2 separate regions of the Homo sapiens genome follow, and region 1 is linked to region 2. The links come from fine-mapping of genetic effects on gene expression. A gene starts in region 2. The other region holds a variant in brackets. All regions are shown on one strand. Distances are from middle to middle.

What was found.
Region 1: its variant is fine-mapped to the expression of NECTIN2 in whole blood (INTERVAL, PIP above 0.99).

The regions. Positions count from the first base shown.
Region 1 is chr19:44,868,289-44,876,288 of GRCh38, forward strand. It overlaps NECTIN2 (nectin cell adhesion molecule 2), which reads left to right. Exons shown (of 9, transcript NM_001042724.2): 3 at 3,565-3,861; 4 at 5,628-5,745; 5 at 6,042-6,190. Among named protein-coding and RNA genes, the nearest start is that of TOMM40, 19 kb to the right of the region's middle. The variant C/G (reference allele first, on the strand shown) is at 4,772.
Region 2 is chr19:44,835,287-44,849,948 of GRCh38, forward strand. NECTIN2 (nectin cell adhesion molecule 2) reads left to right here and starts at 11,011. Exons shown (of 9, transcript NM_001042724.2): 1 at 11,011-11,327. The coding sequence starts at 11,240. RefSeq lists silencers at 9,375-9,774, 10,642-10,691, 10,772-10,851, 10,982-11,081 and an enhancer at 12,721-13,703.

The sequences.
Region 1 (8,000 bases), 30 kb after region 2:
GGAAGCAGAGATTGCAAGTGAGCCAAGATTGCACCACTGCACTCCAGCACGAGACCCTGTCTCAAAAAAAAAAAAAAAAAAATAGGACTCCCAGCGGGAAGGTGACTGATACTTGGCAAAAATAGAGAAGGCAGGGAAGATTTTTTTTGAAGGATGCTTTTTTTTCTTTTCCTTTTTCTTTTTTTTTTTTTTTCTTTTTTTGAGACAAAGTCTCACTACATTGTCCAGGCTAGACTCGAACTCCTGGGCTCAGGGGATCCTCCTACCTCCGCCTCCTGCATAGCTGGGATTACAGGCATGAGTCACCACATCCAGCTACGAATGCTCTTTCTTTAAATCTTGAGGCTGGGCGTGGTGGCTCACTCCTGTAATCCCAGCACTTTGGGAGGCCGAGGCGGGCGGATCACGAGGTCAGGAAATCGAGACCATCCTGGCTAACACGGTGAAACCCCATCTCTACTAAAAATACAAGAAATTAGCCAGGCGTGGTGGCGGGTGCCTTAGTCCCAGCTACTCGGGAGATTGAGGCAGGAGAATGGCTTGAACCCGGGAGGCGGAGCTTGCAGTGAGCCGAGATCGCGCCACTATACTCCAGCCTGGGCGACAGAGTGAGACTCTGTCTGGAAAAAAAAAAAAATATGTTGGAAGTCCCCTGGGAGCCCACCTTCCCTAGGCAACTTCCCAGAAGCCACGTCACTCTGGATGCCTTTTCTTCCCCCTTCTCAGCCCAGAGCGTCTGAGAAGGTCACCCTGTGCTATCCTTGAGTAAACACTTCCCTTTCCAGTAACACATGAAACCACAGCCGTTTTCCATAATACAAAGGACAGCTCTTCTCCTCCCCACCCTCACAAACGCCTCTCTTCTTGTGCAATCATTTGTTCTCATCCAGAGATAACTTCAGGGCTGGGCACGGTGGCTCACACCTGTAATCCCAGCACTTTGGGAGGCTGAGAGGCAACAAGAGCAAAACTCTGTCTCAAAATAAATAAATAAATAATGAGACTCAGAAAATATGATTAAGGGCCAGGCGCAGTGGCTCACGCCTGTAATCCCAGCACTTTGGGAGGCCGAGGCAGGCGGATCACGAGGTCAGGAGATTGAGACCATCCTGGCTAACACGGTGAAACCCTGTCTCTACTAAAAATACAAAAAAATTAGCCGGGCGTGGTGGCGGGTGCCTGTAGTCCCAGCTACTTGGGAGGCTGAGGCAGGAGAATGGCATGAACCCAGGAGGCGGAGCTTGCAGTGAGCCGAGATCGCATCACTGCACTCCAGCCTGGGCGACAGAGCGAGACTCCATCTCAAAAAAAAAAAAAAAAAGAAAAGAAAATATGATTAAGTGTAGGGTTTAATCAAGCCCAAAGCTTGAGGATGACCACCTGGGAGCATAGATTGAAGTTGCCCTGAATATACACTTCAAGCAGGGGCCAAGGCAAGCAGCTCTTGCAAGTGAGCTTTTGTTTGTTTGTTTGTTTCTTGGAGAGAGGGTCTCCAAAACTACAAATAAAAATTAGCTAGGAATGGTGGCGCACACCTGTAATCCCAGCTACTCAGGAGGCTAAGGCAGGCGAATTGCTGAAACCAGCAAGGGCAGGTTGCAGTAAGCTGAGATTGCACCACTGCACTGCATCCTGGGTGACAGCAAGACTCTGTCTCAAATTAATAAAAAAAAAAGAGAGAGAGAGAGATAACCTCAAGAGCTTCCGTATACACACTGGTGCAGAAGTAAGGAACAAAACAGCCAAAGCCTCTGTCTTCATGATGCGTGAGCCACCAAGGAATAGTTGGCCAGAGTCGGCGGTCAGGAAAGTGCCCTTGACGAAGTGGGGCTTGGAGTGGGGTCTGGAGAAGGAGGCCAAAGCAATCCAGGCACAAAATCACCAACCAAAACCCCAAAGTGGGTGGAGGCAGAGACTGAGGAGGGCGTGGATGGGGAGCATGTGGAGTGGCCAGGGGAGGTGGCCATGGGGAAGTGGTGGGCTCGGGCCCTGAGTCACTATTCTAACAGCTTGGAGGGCGGCCAGGAGGATGTGGGGAGGCTTGTTGGATGCTCCACGATGGTCAGGGGAGAAGGCGGTGGGAAGGGAGAGCTGGGAAGAAGAGGAGAGTCAGACCGTGTTGAGAAGTTCAGAGGTGGATACCCAGGTCCAGAAAGCAACAGAAGATGTGAGTCTGGGTGGGGGACACACATCATAAGCATGAGCTGCTATTCTTCCTGGAGTTTTGTTTTTGTGATTTTTTTCCATGTTTTCCAAGAGAATGAGGTGGAAAGGGTATAAAAAAAAGAAACGGCTTTGAGATTTTCTGCCTTTATCACACTTCCAGTCATTCAATCATCTAATGGTGATTACAGGAAAAGGAACAGGGGGCCTTTCCAGCTGGACCTTTGAACCACAGTACTCAGTTACTCGCTCGGCCTTGATTTGCTTTTTTTTTTTCCTTTTTTTTTTTTTTCTTTTGGAGACAGAGTCTCACTGTCACCCAGGCTGGAGTGCAGTGGCACGATCTCGGCTCACTACAACCTCTGCCTCCCAGGTTCAAGCAATTCTCTTACCTCAGCCTCCCGAGTACCTGGGATTACAGGCACCTGCCACCACGCCCAGCTAATTTTTGCATTTTTAGTAGAGATGGGGTTTCACCACGTTGGCCACGCTAGTCTAGAACTCCTGACCTCAGGTGATCTGCCCACCTGGGCCTCCCAAAGTGCTGGGATTACAGGCATGAGCCACTGCGCCCATCCTAATTTTTGTATTTTCAGTAGAGATGAGTTTTCACCATGTTGGCCAGACTGGTCTCAAATTCCTGGCCTCAAGTGATCCACCCTCCTCAGCCTCCTAAAGTGCTGGTATTGCAGGTGTGAACCACCACGCCCGACCAGCTTTTTTTTAAATCTCAGCCTCCTCTAGGCTTTTGGACCCTGTCTCTGCATCTCTGGCAGGGCGAAGAGACAGTATACCGAAATGGCCAGGCCAGGCGCCTGTAACCTCAGAGCTTTGGGGAGCCGAGGTGGGAAGATGGCTTGTGCTCAGGAGTTTGAGATCAGCCTGGGCAACATAGCAAGAACTCATCTCTACAAAAAAATTTAAAAATTAGCCGGGCATGGTGGTGCATGCCTATGGTCCTAGCTACTCTGGAGGCCAAGGCGGGAGGATCACTTGAGCCTAGGAGGTGCAGGCTGCAGCAAGCTATGATCACACCACTGCACTCGAGACCAGGTGACAGAGCGGGCCCCTGTCTCTAAAAAATAAATAAAGTAAAATAAAATGGGCAACACTTGGATAGGGCAGTGCAGGCCAGACATTACCCTAAGCCATTTACCTATCAATGTATTATTTAATTCACACAGCAATCCTAGGGGTGGGTACTTTCATTATCCCCATTTTACAAAACAAGAAACAGCTACAGAGTTGCAAAACCACTTATCCCAAGCCAGGCCGCTGATAAGCAGCAGAGCTGGGATTGGAACCCCGGCAGTTAGGGCCTAACCACCCTGCTCCTCTGCTGAGTGTTTGTTGAATGACTGCCGGTGAGGAGTGACGCACCCCCTCTCCTCCTCTCCCCAGCCAAGCCCAAGAACCAAGCTGAGGCCCAGAAGGTCACGTTCAGCCAGGACCCTACGACAGTGGCCCTCTGCATCTCCAAAGAGGGCCGCCCACCTGCCCGGATCTCCTGGCTCTCATCCCTGGACTGGGAAGCCAAAGAGACTCAGGTGTCAGGGACCCTGGCCGGAACTGTCACTGTCACCAGCCGCTTCACCTTGGTGCCCTCGGGCCGAGCAGATGGTGTCACGGTCACCTGCAAAGTGGAGCATGAGAGCTTCGAGGAACCAGCCCTGATACCTGTGACCCTCTCTGTACGCTGTGAGTGTATCGGGGGTGACCCCTCCCCCATCAAAACTGCCTACACTGGCTTCTCTAAAGCACTGTCTACATTGTCTCTGAATGTTGTCTACGTGGGTTCCCTGAAGCCAAATTCTGCACTACCTTCCTGCCATTGTCTACACTGGCTCCCATGGGCAAATCTACATACTTCCCCCTCATTGTCTACATTGGCTTTACTGGGTTCCTGCATGCTGTGCCTAGTCTGTGGTAACCTGGGATGGGCTTGCAAGAGCCAGTTTGATACATTTCTTTCCAATTCCACATCCAATGAAGTCTTCTCGGTAGCTTGAAATCAACCTTGGGGAATATTTACACCAAGGAAATTGGCAAACCCTAGAAATGGGGGCTTCTTTTATTCCCCAGAGAGTTGGTTTACCAGCAAAGAGCTGCCCCCAACAGTGTCTTTTCTGGCTCCCATGGACCCCGGTTGACACTGCCCCTGGACCGTTAGATCAATCATGCTGGGCCATGTCCACATGTCTACATGTCTACACTGCCCAACCTAACATCGTCTCCACACCTTCCCATACTTCTGCCTTGACTTCCCTAGGTGCCATCTATACTGAGTCTCCCAGAGTCTCTACACCGACCCCTGATCCTTGATATTATTTACATTGTATTTATTATTTATTATTTATTATTATATTTTTATATATTATATATTATATAAAATATATAAATTATATATTATATATTAACATATATTTTGTCATTATTTATTATTGTTATTTAATATAATATAATTACATTATATTATATATTACATTACAGGCTCCACCCCCCGGGCCCTGTTGATCCTGACCCCTCCCACTGGGTTTTTTGCTAGCTCTTCCAGAAACTGCCTATACTCACACCTCGTAATGTTACCCAGAGAGGCCACCCTGGCACT[C/G]TTCACACAGAATCCCTCAAATACTGGCTTAACCACCTCTTCCACCACTGTCCAAAATGACCACATATCCCAACTCAATGTTGTCTACACTAGCTCCCCAGGCAATGCCTCCACTTACACAGATTCCCTAAGCCAAGTCTACACCAGCTCCCCCAGGCAACATGCATCACGTGCGCCCATAAGTGCAACAGCTCCCCTGAGCCTCGTCTGTGCCACTTTCCTCCCGGGACCTACACTGGTTGCCCAAACCCTGTTTTGACATCCTCCCTCCATGCCAAAAACACACACACAGGCCGGGTGCGGTGGCTCACACCTGCAATCCCAGCACTTTGGGAGGCCAAGGCGGGCAGATCACTTGAGGTCAGGAGTTCGGGACTAGCCTGGGCAACATGGTGAAACCCTGTCTGTACTAAAAATACCAAAATTAGCTGGACGTGGTGGTACATGCCTGTAATCCCAGCCATTTGGGAGGCTGAGGCGGAGGGATGGCTTGAGCCCAGGACGTGGAGTTTGCAGTAAACCAGGATCACCCCACTGCTCTCCATCCTGGGCAACAGAGCAAGATCCTGTCTCAAAAACACACACACACACACACACACATTATTTGTAGTGGCTCCCTTAGGCACTGCCAGCACTGAACAATAACTCCCACAAAATTATCCACAGTGGTTTCCCTGAACAGTGTCTACACTGACATCAGCACACAACAGCCTGGACTGATTTGCCCCAGACAGTTTTGACTGCTGTACCTCCTGCCAACCCGCCCCGTTTCTTTAGCATTCCTGTCTATCTGCTAACTTGTCCACCCGCTCTGGGATTCTCCTCCTTGCTGATCCAGTCCCCCCATTTCCCCCAGACCCTCCTGAAGTGTCCATCTCCGGCTATGATGACAACTGGTACCTCGGCCGTACTGATGCCACCCTGAGCTGTGACGTCCGCAGCAACCCAGAGCCCACGGGCTATGACTGGAGCACGTGAGTCACGTGGTCTCAGAACCCTGGGTCTGAGGGAGGCGGGGCTGGGGGCCTGGACTCCTGGATCTAAGGGAGGAGGGGCTGGGGGCCTGGACTCCTGGATCTGAGGGAGGAGGGGCTGGGCCTAAATTCCTAAGTCCTCCAGGATGAAGGGAGCTTGCATTTTGGCAATTTGGGGTCTCCGGGAGTACTTAGGTCCCTGGAGCTTGGCTCCTGGTGGGTGTATCTTTAGGGATGAGGCCTGTGCTCCCCTCTCGACCTTGGTATCCCTCTCACCTGACCCCACACCCCTCCAGGACCTCAGGCACCTTCCCGACCTCCGCAGTGGCCCAGGGCTCCCAGCTGGTCATCCACGCAGTGGACAGTCTGTTCAATACCACCTTCGTCTGCACAGTCACCAATGCCGTGGGCATGGGCCGCGCTGAGCAGGTCATCTTTGTCCGAGGTGAGTGGGTCTTGGGGGCCGTGTGTGGAGACCTGGGTCCGCTCCCCTGGAGTTCTGCCCTTCAGGACTTGGGGCTGCACTGGGGGAGGCTGCGCCGCCGACCTGGGAGGGATGCAGACCTGCCTGGCTGAGGGGAGATGAGGGTTGGCCTTCCCCTCGTGGCCTCAGACTGGGGTCTGGATTTGGGGTGTCGGGGTAGGTGAAGGCAGCAGAGTTGGGGGGTTGAGGACTTTGCTCGGGGTTCCTAGAAAGTAGAGGCCTGGGTAGGGTCCTCACGAATAGACCCGAGGAAGCTGCCCTGGGCTCCAGCTCCTGAGAAAGACGCACACCTAGAGTCAGGCATGCAAACTTCAAAGAGACAGAAACCAAGAGCTCCCACCCCCAGAAACACAATCCGGCCCCAAGGCACGGAGCCAAAGAGGAAAAGCACAAAGCCAGACCATCACCCAGTGATGGAAACTGGGTCAAACTCACAACTGCAGGGCCACACACCTAGAGCGCGGCCGGGACTGTTAACAGAGCCATGCTTCCTGGGACAGAGAGACCCCTGGGTCCTGGAGATAGGGCCAGAGACCCCTCCTGTCAGAGCCACAGCTGGCAGGATCCACAGCCACAGACACTCCCTGTGCTGAGAAATTCTGTTGCAGAGATGCATCAGAATCCAGACACTCACCTGGATGGTAACCCTGCACGCTCAAACCCATTGTCACCAAGACACACACCCAGGAGGACAGTGGCACCAGCCAAGATAGACTGAACGAAGCCAGATGACACCTGGAAAGGGACATTCTTTTTTTTTTTTTTTGAGATGGAGTCTCGCTCTGTCGCCCAGGCTGAAGTGTAGTGGCGCAATCTCAGCTCACCGCAACCTCCGCCTCCCGGGTTCAAGCAATTATCCTGCCTCAGCCTCCTGAGTAGCTGGGACTATATGCGCTCACCACCAAACCCGGCTAAGTTTTGTATTTTTAGTAGAGACAGGGTTTCACCATATTGGTCAGGCTGGTCTCGAACTGCTGACCTCAGGTGATCCACCCGCCTCGGCCTCACGAAGTGCTGGGATTATATGCATGAGCCACTGCGCCTGGCCAGAAAAAGACATTCTTAGAAACACGCCAGGGCGACGGTCCATGCAGCACACCTGTGCAAACACGCAATGTGCAGGCCCCCCAGAAACATGACTGAAGGTGTAGGGACAAACTCCCAGACAGGGGCTGTCCCTGTCATGCAGACAGACTAGCCACGGAGGGACAGAAGCAGACCCCCTTACTGAGTCATAATCTTAGAATGCACACACACTTGCAGGGACACCCGAGGGAAAACAGACACCTCTTCAGGAATCCAGATACAGCCAGGGAGATAGGACACCCCTACGGGAAACACTGTCACAGACAGCAAACCCAGAGAGACAGCTGTCCCGCTCTGGGCTCGCCTGGCGCGTGAGGATGCACATAAGTCCCCGGAGGAAGACGTCACACAGACACGCTGGGGGCAAAACTAATCCAGGACAGCAACGGCTGCACACGGAGGAATGTCATCCCTCACTCACAGACCCTCAGACGGAAAATCAAAGACATCCTGGGAGGAGCTTCTTCCCAGGAACCCTCCCGAAACTCCCCGAAACTCCTCCGAAATTATCCAGAAAGTCCGTTAGGGAGATTCTCATTCAACAAATATGTGTTTCCTGTTTGCTAGGCACTCTTGCTGAGGTTGGGAATACAATGGTGAATGAGCCACAGTCCCTGCCCTCAGTAGCACACCCAGGGGAGGGTCAGCTCCACCCGCCCAGACAGACACCGAACTGGAAATACAC
Region 2 (14,662 bases):
CATTGTCTCAAGATCTGTTTAACCCTGGAGCCAGACTGGGTCAGTGGGTCTGTGTGGTGCCTCATGTACCTGTCTCTGCCCCTTGAAGTTCTGTTTACCACCTCCAAGAGGCATAGCCTGCAGTCTCAGCAAAAGGATAGATTCCCAGGAAGAGTGCGAGAGAGGTTTGGGGCCCAGGTGGGCAGCCCACCCAGCTGACCCCACCAGGTGGGCATGATATCATGATATCAAATATGCTAAATTTGTGTCTGTGTACATCATGTTCTGGCCCCAGGGAAATGAGCACTTTGCTGGTGAGGTTGGTGACATTTTGTTTACCATCTATGCCTGAGGAGGAAAGACTGGAGGAAAGAAAGACCTAAGAGGCCAGTTTATATTCACAAACATGGAAGTCAAGCCTGTTCCACCTTTCCAATGCAATAGAGCACCTACTGGGAAAGCCATGCCTGGCCAGCCCCTGGCAAAACACACCTGAGGATTCATTCCTCCATTCACGCAATCATACCTTCAAGAAAAGTTCAGAGGGCGTGGTGGCTCGCGCCTGTAATCCCAACAGTTTGGGAAGCCAAGGCTGGCTGATCACCTGAGGTCAAGAGTTCGAGACCAGCCTGGCTAACATGGTGAAACCCCATCTCTACTAAAAATACAAAAATTAGCCTGGCATTGTGGTGCATGCCTGTAGTCACAGCTACTCGGGAGGCTGAGGCAGGAGAATCACTTGAAACTTGGAGGCGGAGGTTGCAGTGAGCTGAGATCGAGTCACTACACTCCAGCCTGGGTAACAGAGCGAGACTCCGTCTCAAAAAAATAAAAAGTGTATTGAGTGTTTACTGTGTGCCAGGCACTGGGGAGACATCAATGAACAAACTTCACAACCCACCAGGCACAGTGGCTCACGCCTGTAATCCCAGCACTTTGGGAGCTCAAGGCGGGAAAATCACTTGAGGTCAGGAATTCAAGACCAGCCTGGGCAACACAGCAAGATCCCATCTCTACAAAAAAATTTTTAAATTAGCCAAACATGGTGGCACACACCTGCAGTCCCCACTACTCAGAGTGGGAGGATCGCTCAAGTCCAGAAAGTCAAAGCTGCAGCGAGCTATGATGGCATTACTGTACTCCAGGCTGGGAGACAGAGCAAGATCCTGTCTCCAAGACATAATAATAATAATAATAATTCACATCCTAATGGTGTTGCTGGACTCCAGTGGGGAAAGTGGTCAGTGGAATTCCTTAGAAGGTCCACAGACCTAGGAAGAGACTTCAGGAACTGCAACCAATCCCTGACTCTCTAGGGCCTGAGGAGGCACTTGGATGGGAACACCCTCCACCTCCCAAGAGAAGCAGTTGACTCCTCCACGAGGAAGCACTGGACAGCCAGGAGGTGCCTCTTGTTAACCAAAGTGGGCTGTTGACCTTGAACTCCAGCTCAGAGATCTTGTCCCTGGTCTTGTTCTCAAGACTCATCAGGTTCTCTCTTTCTCTGGACATGGAATCTAGATCTTCAATTTTGAAGCCAAATCTATGGGAGTAAAACAAAGAGATTTGATTAAAACAAAAGATGTTGTGCAAAACTCAAAAAATAAAACAGGCTGGGCGCTGTGGCTCAGGCCTGTAATCCCAGCACTTTGGAAGGCCAAGGCAGGAGGATCACTTGAGCCCAGGAGTTCGAGACCAGCCCTGGCAACAAACAGAGACTCTGTCTCTACAAAAAATGCAAAAATTAGCCTGATGTGGCGGTACACGCCTGTAGTCCCAGCTACTCGGGAGGCTGAGGTAGGGGGATCCCTTGAGCCTGGGAGGCTGAGGCTGCAGTGAGCCGTGATCCAGCCACTGCATTCCAGCCAGGGCAACAGAGCGAGATCCTGTCTCAAAAAATAAAATAACAGTAGTCCCAGCACTTTGGGAGGTCGAGGCAAGCAGATCACTTGAGGTCAGGAGTTCTCAACCAGCCTGGCCAACATGGTGAAACCCCATCTCTACTAAAAATACAAAAATTAGCCAGGGGTAGGGGGGCACACCTGTAATGCTAGCTACTGGGGATGCTGAGGCATGAGAATCACTTGAACCCGGGAGGCGGAGTTTGCAGTGAGCCAAGATCACGCCACTGCACTCCAGCCTGGGCAACAGGGCGAGACTCCGTCTCAAAACAACAACAAAAATAAACATGAGAAGCTAGATGACTGTAGCTGGCTGATCACCTGCTTGGCAGCCACAGCTTTTACCTGTGTCTTGGGCTTGGGACTCATGGAGCAGAGTGGGTGTCGCCCACAGGACGCATGAATGCTTGGAGCTTACTGGATCCCTGCATCCCTCCCATCTGTGTTCAGCTCACATTCTTAGTATGTCTAACAGGTCTCATGAGTTGCTTTTTTTTTTTTTTTGAGACGGAGTCTTGCTCAGTTGCCCAGGCTGGAGTGCAGTGGCGCGATCTCAGCTCACTGCAACCTCCGCCTCCCGGGTTCAACTGATTCTCCTGCCTCAGCCTTCCGAGTAGCTGGGATTACCGGCGGGTGCCACCACGCCTGGCTAATTTTTTGTATTTTTAGTAGAGACAAGATTTCACCGTGTTCGCCAGGATGGTCTCGATCTCCTGACCTCATGATCCGCCTGCCTCAGCCTCCCAAAGTGCTGGGATTACAGGTGTGAGCCACCACGCCCGGCTTGAGTTGCTTCTTAATATCCATCCTTCATTTCACCTGTCTGTGTCCTTATTTATAGGGCTCTTGTTCCCTATATAACAGAATTGAAAATTCCCTTTAAAAAAATACAGCAAATGCACACAGAGGATCAGAGGATGGAGGGGAGAATTTGATGAGATAACCAGGGAAGTATTTAGTACAAAGCCTGGCACAGAGTCCATGTGCAGTACATGTTAATTATTGTGATTATCTAAGGAAAAATAAAGAGACACAGAGAAAAGCAAAAAGGTTGCCTTAGGCCAGGTGCGGTGGCTCACACCTGTAATCCCAGCACTTTGGGAGGCCGAGGCAGGCAGATCACCTGAAGTCATGAGTTCGAGACCAGCCTGGCCAACATGGTGAAACCTTGTCTCTACAAAAAAAAAAAGACAAAAATTAGCTGGGCATGGTGGCACGCGCCTGTAATCCCAGCTACTCAGGAGGCTGAGACACAAGGATCACTTGAACCCAGGAGGCGGAGGTGGCAGCGAGCCGAGATCACACCACTGCACTCCAGCCTGGGTGACAGGGCGACACTCTGTCTCAAAAAAAAAAAAATAAAGGCCAGGTGCGGTGGCTCACGCCTGTAATCCCAGAACTTTGGGAGGCCGAGGCAGGCAGATCACCTGAGGTGAGGGGTTCGAGACCAGCCTGGCAAACATGATTTAGTAGAAACCCCGTCTCTACTAAAAATACAAAAATTAGCTGGGCGTGGTGGCAGGCACCTGTAATCCCAGCTACTCGGGAGGCTCAGGCAGGAGAATCGCTTGAACCCGGGAGGCGGAGGTTGCAGTGAGCCGAGATCACACCATTGTACGCTAGCCTGGGGGGACAAGAGCGAGACTTCGTCTCAAAAATAAATAAATAAATAAACAAATAGGCTGGGCGCAGTGGCTCACGCCTGTAATCCCAACACTTTGGGAGGCCAGGCGGGCGGATCACGAGGTCAGGAGATCGAGACCATCCTGGCTAACACGGTGAAACCCTGTCTCTACTAAAAATACAAAATATTAGCCAGCATGGTGGCAGACGCCTGTAGTCCCAGCTACTCGGGAGGCTGAGGCAGGAGAATGGCGTGAACCCGGGAGGCGGAGCTTGCAGTGAGCCGAGATCGCGCCACTGCACTCTAGCCTGGGCAACAGAGCGAGACTCCATCTCAAAAGTAAAATAAAATATAATAAAATAAAATAAATAAAATACAAACACTCCCTTAGTCCAGGGCAGGGACCAGATACAGAGATACCACTCTAAAGGCAGACATTGGTGTTGGGGTTTGGTGAGTTGGATGGCGAGTGAACAGATGGCTAGTGGGAAGGGAAAGAGAAGAGGAAAGGGTTCTCCATCCAGTACCTGGTCCCCAAGTTAATGAGTGGAGGATCCCAGCCTGCCCCACCAGGAGGGAATACATTTGCATAAGGTCCCTCATCTGCATGGCATCCCAGGGAATTTGCATAGAGATGGCAGCCTGGGGCCACATCAGTATGACCCCTCCTCCCAAGGGTTGAAACTCCAGCCTACATTACAAAGGCCTAGGGCAATAGGAAAGTGGGAGGGGTGAACCTCAGGATCTGGGGCTCCAGGAAGTAAAGAGAAGTTGGTAGTAAACTACCCTTGCTCTTTAACCTTCTGTGGTTCCCAGAGCATGAGCCGCCCTTCAGCTGGCATTCTGGACCTTCTAAGATACTGACCCTCACATCCCCTGCTCCCGCTGTCACCACCCTCCTACCTGGAATGCCCTTCCCCATATCCCGTGCTGTGACAAAGCTTGCCTATTCTTCAAAGCCTGGACATCCTGAAGAATTCTGAAAGCTTTCACCACCAGCCCCTCCTTGCCCTGCCCTTGGAAATTTACAAAGCTCTGTGCATCTCCCAGACATGTACAGATTTTTTGGGGTATATAGTTTATTAGTAAGGTTATATTTGATTGCAAATGACTATATATATATATATATATATATATATATATATATATATATATACACACACACACACACACACACACACACACACACATAGTCTCATACATATATATATATATATAGTCTATACATATATATATAGTCTCATATATATATATATGTATACCAGGAGTCATGTCTCATGCTTGTAATCCCAGCAGTTTGGGAGGCCAAGGCAGGAAAATTGCTTGAGCCTAGGAGTTCAAGACCAGCCTGAGCAACCTAGTGAGAGCCTGTCTCTACAAAAAAGTCAAAAGATGAGTCTGGCAGGCCGAGCACGGTGGCTCACGACTGTAATCCCAGCACTTTGGGAGGCAGAGGAGGGCAGACCACTTTAGGTCAGGAGTTCAAGACCAGCCTGGTAATATTGTGAAACCCCGTCTCTAATAAAACTGCGAACATAGCCAGGCGTCGTGGCCCAAACCTGTAGTCCCAGCTACTTGGGAGGCTGAGGCAGGAGAATCACTTGAACCCAGGGGGCAGAGGTTGCAGTGAGCCAAAATCACACCACTGCATTCCAGCCTGGGCAACAGACTGACACTCCGTATCAGAAAAAAAAAAAAAAAAAAAAAGATTGGCCGGGTGCGGTGGCTCACGCCTGTAATCCCAGCACTTTGGGAGTCCGAGGCGGGCAGATCACAAGGTCAGGAGATTGAGACCATCCTGGCTAACAAGGTGAAACCCCATCTCTACTAAAAATACAAGAAATTAGCTGGGCATGGTGGCGGGCGCCTGTAGTCCCAGCTACTCGGGAGGCTGAGGCAGGAGAACGGCGTGAACCCAGGAGGCAGAGCTTGCAGTGAGCCAAGATCGCTCCACTGCACTCCAGCCTGGGCAACAGAGCAAGACTCCGTTTCAAAAAAAAAAAAAAAGATTATTCTGGCACAGTGGCGAATGCCTATAGTCCCAGCCACTTGGGAGGCTGAAGTGGGAGGATTGCTTGAGCCTGAGAGGTGGAAGCTTCAATGAGCCATGATTGTACCACTGCACTCCAGTCTGGCCAACAGAGCATGACCCTGTCTCAGAATAAGAGCCGGGTATGGTGGCTCACGTTTGTGATTCCAGCACTCTGGGAGGCCGAGGCAGGCAAATTGCTTGAGCCCAAGAGTTCAAGACCAGCCTCGGCAACAACCCAAAAACCCATCTCTACAAAAAAATAGAAAAATTAGCCAAGCATAGTGGCACATGCCTGTAGTCCCAGCTACTCGGGAAGTTGACATGGAAGGATCCCGAGCCAGGGAGGTCATGGCTGCAGTGAGCCATGGTAATGTCACCACACTCCAGCCTGAGCGACAGAGTGAGACCCTGTCTTAATTAAAAAAAAAAAAAAAAGACTGAGGGGAGGAAGTGGTTAGGGGAGCTGCTGCTGCTGCTAAAAGAAAGGAAAGGTTGCCAGGCAGGTAAAATACTTGGCATCAGCTCCATAGCTCCGTCAGGAAGCCTTTGCCCCTACCTATGCCCCTACCTTCTAGTGGTTATGGCTCTTCAGTGAAGTGCCACCTCTGGGACTCCTTGACACTAAAAGTCAACTCCCCAGGCGGGCGTGGAACCCACCCAGTCATTTGTCACCAAACTTGGTGCTCAGCCTCATGCTTGTGACCCAAGGGTGTGAAACTCCAGCCTACACCTCTGGGGCATTTTTTTCTTTCTTTTTTTTTTTTTCCTTTTTTTTTTGGCAGAGCCTTGCTGTCACCCAGGCTGGAGTGCAGTGGCACAATCTTGGCTCACTGCAACCTCCACCTCCCGGGTTCAAGCGATTCTCCGGCTTCAGTCTCCCAAGTAGCTGGGATTATAGGCACCCGCCACCACATCCTGCTAATTTTTGTATTTTCAGTAGAGACAGGGTTTCACCACGTAGGCCAAGCTGGTCTCAAACTCCTGACCTCAGGTGATCCATCTGTCTCGGCCTCCCAAAGTACTGGGATTACAGGCTTGAGCCACCATGGCCAGCCTCCTGGGGCTTTCTTCCTGGGCTCATCCCTGCTCACAAAGAACAGCCAGGAGAGAGCTAAGCCCACTCATTCGTAGGCCAGGAGAAAGGAGGTGCTAGAGGCCTTCCTAGAAGAAGACTTCCTGGGGACTGGTTCTTTTGTTCAATGGATAAACGGGGGTCCCAGGATTTTGCAAAGCAAGTTAGTAGCAAGGCTGGCACTAAAACCCAGAGGTCCTGGTCCACAAACCTGGCCTCAGATTGGGGAGAGAAGGTCAGAGAGATCTAAAGCACATTTATTGCCAGGCGCGATGGCTCACACCTGTAATCCCAGCACTTTGGGAGGCTGAGGTGAGAGGATCACTTGAGGGCAGGAGTTCAAGACCAGCCTGGGCAACAAAGCGAGAATCAAATTCTACAAAACATTTAAAAATGCACCGAGCAGCCGGGCACAGTGGCTCACGCCTGTAATCCCAGCACTTTGGGAGGCCGAGGCAGGTGGAGCACGAGGTCAGGAGATCGAGACCATCCTGGCTAAGACCATGAAACCTCGTCTCTACTAAAAATACAAAAAATCAGCTGGGCGTGGTGGCAGGCACCTGTAGTCCCAGCTACTCGAGAGGCTGAGGCAGGAGAATGGCATGAACCTGGGAGGCGGAGCTTGCACTGAGCCAAGATCGCGCCACTGCACTCCAGCCTGGGCGACAGAGCAGAGACTGTCTCAAAAAAAAAAAATGCACCGAGCATAGTGGCACATGCCTGTAGTCCCAGCTACTCAGGAGGCTGAGGCAGAGGATCCCTTGGGCTGGGAAGTTTGAGGTTAGAGGGAGCCAAGATCTGCACTCCAACCTGGGCGACAAAGCACAACCCTGCCTCAAAATTAAATACATAAATAAATTAAGCACATTTATTTATTTTACTGTTTTATTTTATTATTATATATATTTTAAGAGACGGGGCTCTACCATGTTGCCAGGCGTGTCTTGAACCCCTAAATTCAAGTGATCTGCCAGCCTTGGCCTCCCAAAGTGCTGGGATTGCAGACATGAGCCACTGCGCAAGGCCTATTTGTGTATTTATTTATTTTAGAGACAAAATCTCTCTGTCTCCCAGGCTGGAGTGCAGTGGCTCAATCACAGCTCACTGCAGCCTCAACCTCCCTGGGCTCAGGTGATCCTCCCACCTCGGCCTCCCGAGTAGCTGTAGCTGCTATGCATTTATTATGTGTGCGCCTATTTGTCCAGCCATCCTCACACCCAGTTTGTGCCAAGCCTGAGACACAAGCTATCTGGAGCTCACATGGCATGGAGGTTAAAAGCACAGACTGGCCGGGTGCAGTAGCTCACCCCTGTAATCCCAGCACTTTGGGAGGCTAATGCAGGCAGATCACAAGGTCAGGAGTTCGAGACCAGCCTGACCAACATGGTGAAAGCCCGTCACTACTAAAAATACAAAAATTAGCCGGGCGTGGTGGTGCGTGCCTGTAATCCCAGCTACTCAGGAGGCTGAGGCAGGAGAATCACTCAAACCTGGGGGGCGGAGGTTGCAGCGAGCCGAGATTGATTGCGCCACTGCACTCCAGCCTTGGCAACAGAGCCAGACTCCGTCTCAAAAACAAAAAGAGCACAGACCATCCGGGCCCAAAAGAAGCACCCGGCCTGCTATGTGTCTTTGCTGGGTGGCTTGGGGCAAACAACCACCCTGTGCCTCAGTTTACTTTTCAGTGAAATGGGGATCACCATGGTGTCCCCTTCATGGGATCCCTGTGAGGAACTAACTAAGAGAAATAAGGTGCTTAGAAGAGTCAGCTCTGGCTCTGCCATTTTGTTTATTTTTATTTATTTTTAATTTCTATTTTATTTTATGTTTTTCAGACTGAGTCTCACTCTGTTGCCCAGGCTGGAGTGCAGTGGTGCGATCTCGGCTCACTGCAACCTCCAACTCCCGGGTTCAAGCGATTCTCCTGCCTCAGCCTCCCAAGTAGAGACAGGGTTTCACCATGTCGGCCAGGCTGGTCTCGAACTCCTGAACTCAAGTGATCCACCCGCCTCAGCCTCCCAAAGTGCTGGGATTACAGGCGTCAGCCAGGGCGCCCCGCCCTGGCTCTGCCATTTTGTAACTCAGTGAGTCACTTCATCTCTCTGCTTCAGTTTCCCTATCGCCCATGGCGCTGCATGGCTTACATGAGATAATATTCGCAGTGCACTTAGATCAGTGCCTGGCACACGGTAAGTGCTGACTACATGTATTAACAGTATCGTAAGTGCCGGGCGCGGTGGCTCACACCTGCAATCCCAGCATTTTGGGAGGCTGAAGCGGGTGGATCAGGAGGTCAGGAGTTTGAGACCAGCCTGACCAACATGGTGAAACCCCGTCTCTACTAAAAATACAAAAATTAGCCGGGCGTGGTGGCGCGCGCCTGTAATCCCAGCTACTCAGGAGGCTGACTCAGGAGAATCGCTTGAACCCAGGAGGCAGAGGTTGCAGTGAGCCGAGATCGCGCCACTGCCCTCCAGCCTGGGCGACAGAGCGAGACTCCGTCTCAAAGAAAAAAAAAAAAAAAGGATCATAACTAAGACTCGAATGCGGAGGGATAACAGCCTCTGCTACTTGAAACCTAGTCCTTCTGGGGAGGAAAGCCCAGGTGTGTGGCAGGTGGAAGGGAGGGCGAGCCTAGGTGGTCCTCTTGCTAGGGCAAGAAGCCCCCAAGCACCTGCCCCCAGCTGAGCAGCTCCGCGCCTCCTGGCCCTGGACGAACTTGGGCCCAGACTGGCGCTCCGTGGCACCCCCTCCCCCGGCCTCCCGCTTCGCGCCCTCATCCCGCCCCCCGGCGCGGCCTCACCAGCTCCCCCTGGGCAGCCCAAAGAATGCGAAGAGGTAGGTGGGGGTAGGGAGGAGGGCGAGCCGCTGGGAGAGACAAAGGGCCCGAGTCTGAGCGAGAGACACAAAGACGCGAGGAGGCTGGGGAGATAGGGGAAGTGGGACAAGGACGCGGGGAGTGACCAGGTCCGGAGGCCGGACTGGAGCCCAGCCCCACCCAGCCCGGCCGGGCCAGCGCAGCGCGGGGGCCGGTCTCTGCTGCCCCCTGGCGGGTGGCTGCGGTGAGAAGGCGGCGCGGAGCAGGTGTTGGGAGGGGAGGACCAGGGCGCGCAGGGAGGTAGGGAGGGAAGGAAGCAGAGAACAGAGCAGGGACAGAGAGACAGCGAGAGAGACTCGCACGCAGAGACAAGAGACGCCGAGAGGGAGACACAGAGAAAGAGACAGGGACAGAGAGACACAGATAGAGACAGAGAGAGACACACGGAGAGACAGAGACAGAGAAGCACAGAGATAGAGAGGCACAGAGATAGAGACAGAGAAACACAGAGACAGAGAGGCACACAGAGACAGAGAGGCACAGAGACAGGCCGATAGAGACAGAGATACACAGAAATAGAGACAGAGACAGAGAGGCACACAGATAGAGACAGAGAGACACAGAGACAGAGTCAAAGGATGGAAAGAGACATGGGGACCAAGTGACCCAGAAACAGTGACAGACAGGCCGGGCTTGGTGGCTCACGCCTGTAATCCCAGCATCTTGGGAGGCCGAGCCGGGAGGATCGCTTGAGGCCAGCCTCAGCAACATAGTGAGACCCCGCCGCCCCCCCGCCCCGTCTCTTTTATTGAAATAAAGAAACAGTGACTGACAAAGGAAGACCAGAAACAGAGCGACACCGAAGCATGAGGACGGAAAGACCCAGAGAGGCAGAAATACAGGGACAGAGAGGAAGACCCAAAGAGAGTGAGAGAGACACAAAGACACGTAAGAGAGACAGAGAAATCCAGAAAGAAACGAGTGCAGCGACACCTAGAGTTCGGGGCAGAGATTAGAAACGCACGAGGGTACGAGAAACAGGCTCAGGGCGATGGGCTCGACCTGCGGGGAGGTCGCACAACCGGGACGTGCTGGGGGCAGAACCGTAAAGCCCCACGTGCCTCAGGCAACTGTGATGAGAGGACCCGGGCAGGCAGGAAAGGGCAGGATTCGAACTGTGGGTGGGACAGAGGCCAGGACGGACTGAGCTAAGAGACCGAGAGAACTCCGGCTAGGGCGAGGGGCGGGGCTGGTGGAGGCGGGGCTGGTGGGGGCGGAGTCGGCCGGAAGGGCCGAAAGGGGCGTGGCAAGACCTTGGCGAGGCGGCCGGTAGGCAGGGGGCGGGGCGTGGGAACTACTCGGGAGCAGAGGGGGCGTGGCTAGACCTTAGGGGGCGTGGTTTAACGCCGGGAGCGAAGGAGACAGAATTCTTTGGCAGGGGCGACCTTAGAATCCTGGGGAGGAGCGAGAATGGAATCCCGGGGAGGAACAGGGGTGGAATCCGGGGGGCGGGGTCAGAACGCCAGGAGGGGGCGGGGCCGGAGCCAGGGTCGGCTTGACTCGGGGGAGCAGCGGGTGGATCCTGTGACGTCAGCGGGTTCGAACCGCCGGAGCTGAGCGAGAGGCCGGGGGTGCCGAGCCGGGCGGGGAGAGCTGGGCCGGGAGAGCAGAACAGGGAGGCTAGAGCGCAGCGGGAACCGGCCCGGAGCCGGAGCCGGAGCCCCACAGGCACCTACTAAACCGCCCAGCCGATCGGCCCCCACAGAGTGGCCCGCGGGCCTCCGGCCGGGCCCAGTCCCCTCCCGGGCCCTCCATGGCCCGGGCCGCTGCCCTCCTGCCGTCGAGATCGCCGCCGACGCCGCTGCTGTGGCCGCTGCTGCTGCTGCTGCTCCTGGAAACCGGTGAGACGAGCGGACGGCCCCCTGCCCTCGCGCGGACCCCCTCCAACCTTACCTTCCGAGCTGGGGAAGCCGAGCACCTTCCCCGCCCACCCCCGGCTCCCCGAGCCCCCTCTCGCGTGCCCCCTTCCTGGCTGGCCCCACAGACTCCGACCCCCTACACGTCCGATTCTCTCGAGGAGACTCTGACCCCTCCTTTCTGCATCTCTCTCACCACCACCCCCATCCTTCTTAATCCAATTGCCCATCCTACGCCTGCTTGTCTGTCCCCCTCCCCATTTCTCGGATTCCCGCGCCGAAAGGGTTAAATCCCAGGAAGGCCTGGTGCCCCCTCCCCACCCCGCGCCGAGTAGTTCACCCGGATCTGGGTCTCTGTCTCCTCTACCCCTCTCAGGAATGTGGGGAATGTTCCCCCCACCTACCGCAGTAAGGTCTCGAGGAAGAGGCGAGACCACCTCCCTCCCCTATTTTTCCTTCTTCCCGGCTTGGGCGTCTGAGGCCCGGAGAGAACTGAGGACAAGCGGACCTGATTCGGGTCCCTTGGAGGGCTAAGGATAAGAGTTCTGGCGACTTAGGGGGAAGGGCCTGAGCTCGGAGCTCCAACCCCGAACCTCAGGGAGTTGGGGGTTCTGACTCCGTGGACTCCAGAAAAATTAGGGGCCGGGGGCTCCGTCTTCAGGGTCCCTGGTAGAATGGAGGCTAGGCGCTAAGTCTAACTGGGATCTAGGTAAAACTGGGGGCGAGAGAGGATCAAACTTGTAGCTTCTGGATTTAATTGTGGGCAGGGGGCTTCGTTTTCAGGGTTCCCGGCAGAACCGGGGGACAGGAGACTCGATCTCGTGGGCTTCAGACTTAATTGTAGGCAGAGGAACGTCTTCTGAGATCCAAACAGAAGTGCGAGCAGCGGGCCCCGTCTCTTGGGCTCCAGATATGATCAAGGGTCGAAGGCTCTGTCTTGAGGCTGGAGTCTCAGTCGCCTGAGTCCCAGATAGAACGGGAGGCCCCGAGTCCCAGAGGCTGGGAGACTCCTCCCTTTCCCTATGAATGGTCGGGGGCGACGGAGACGTCGCCGGGGAAGTTTTCCTGGTTTCACTCTCGCCGAGCCAGGGAGGGGCGGGGCGGGCGCTCCTGGCTCCGGGTTCCGGACTCCCCGGTTTCGGGACCTTATCTATCCTCTGGTAGCGCCTTTGTCCTCAGAGCCATAGCAGGAGGTGGACGAGTGGAGCCGCCGCCCTTATCCCCCGTCCCTCCCATTGCTATGCCTTGGACCCCCTGGCGTCCTTCCATCCACCCCACTAGGGGAGGAGAGCGGCCCCCCTGGGGAGGGAGGGGCTGGGAGGGAACCCTTGAAAGAGGCGCTGGCCCCGCCCCTTGCAGGTGACCCGGTTGTGTATTCCCAGCGACAAACTCTGGGATGCTAGAGTTTCCCGAGGGTTTGCGCAGAAGAGAGCTCAGGGGGATCTTGGGGGAACCCCGGCCACCTCTCTGGCCTCATTTCCCCCAGGATGGCTCTCACTGGCCTCCCAGCTTTGACCCAGAGCTGGGAACTCCGCTTCCATCCCCTGCCTCTCCCTTCAGGCAGAAATAGGCAGATGAGATCAGAACTGGCACCTCTGGGTGAATTCTCCGAACCCACCAGACCCTGAGCCTACTGTTAGCTTGGTGCATGATCTCACCGAAGGCTCCAGCTTGCCCTGGGAAACAGGTCCTGTTTCTGTTTCCATCTTAGAGATGAGGAAACAGGCTCAGCAAAGGCAAGCAGCCTTCTCAAGGTCTCACAGCAGGTCCCGGGGAAGCCGGGCTCCGGTTCTTCAGAGCCCCGCACCGGGTGGGCTCCAGGAAGTGCCTCTGAGTTTCCATTTCCTCCCTCGTAAAAAAACTGAGATAACAATCCTTTCCCTGCGGACCATCCGGAAGGCTCCCAGGCCCCACTGATTCCCTGTGAAACCTCTTAGCCCCTGGAGAAGGAGCTGTCGGCCCCTTTCTTGACCACCCCCACCCCAATCCTTCGCCTCTGCTGTCCACTGGCTGGCCGGCTGGCATGTGCTCGCTCTCCCTCTCTCTCTCTCTCCCCTCCCCCTCCCTGTTTTCCTCCTTCCCTCACTTTCTTTCCCCCTCTTCATCTCTCTTCGTTTCTCACCCTTTCTCTCTCCATCCCTCTCCAAGCTCTTTCTCTCTTCTCCTCTCCCCATCTCTCTCTCTCCTCTCCGTCTTTCTCTGTATACCTGTCTAGCTCCACTGCCTCCCCCGCTTGGCCTCCTCGGGGAATGCGGGTGCACCACCTGGGCCCCCAGCTGGGCCGGCTCCCCTCCCCCAGCTTTCTTCCCTGCCCATCCGTGTGTCCATGTCCGCCAGGCAGCCCCACGTAGTGGAGGGGGAGGGGAGCAGAGGGACGGCAGCCTGGCTGTCTCCTCTCATTAGGGAAGGGGGACTGGGCAGAGGAGAAGTTGGGGGGTGGGTATATAGAGAGGCTGGAGCTACAAGGATGGGTACAGAGGCCAATAGAGGGAAGCGGTCAGACACAGATTTAGGAATGGGGTCAGAGACACGTGTAGGAATGGAATCAGAGGATAGAAGGGGAGTGAAATGCCGGCACAGGGTCGGGGGAGTGAAATACCGACACAGGGATGAGGCTGAAAGACACTGGAATGGGACGGAGGAGGGTGGGGGAAGGGAGCTAGACATAGATACCAGATGAAGGCAGGGACAGGAAAAGGAAAGGGGTTTGGTGACAGGCAGGGAGCCCCAAAGACTCCAGCTGTGGGACAGCAGAGGTGCCGTGACCCACGGAGGTCAGGGTACAGGGGGCCTCAAGGCCAGCGACATGTGGGGGCCACAGGGAGTGATGAACACAGAAGGGACAGGGAGCTGGGCACATGGGCCAGCTCCCCCGCCCCTGCCTGGGACGCTGTTACATTTTTAATGTCCCAGCAGTGCTGACAAATGGAGCAGGAAGGGGAGGAGAAGAGGGGACCCAGCAAGATGGGCCAGGCTGTGAGAAGGTGTGTCAGAAATATGGGGAGACAGGGCACTGGAGACCCAGGAGGCAGGGAGACTCCACAGTCAGAGACAGAAACAGAGACGTAGACCAGAAGGCTTGTGAGAAGAGAACCCCAGGAATCAAGGCAGAGAGCCAGGTTCCAGACACAGGGAGACCCAGACGGAGAAAGAGACCGGAGATGTCAGACATACAGAGGAAAGAGGAAGAGAGTGACTAACGGGGACAGGGTATCTTCTCAGGCTAATGAAAATGTTCTATAATTGCTCGGGTGATGGATGGCTAACTCTGAATATACAAAAGCCACTGAACTGTACACTTTAAATGGGTAGATTGTATG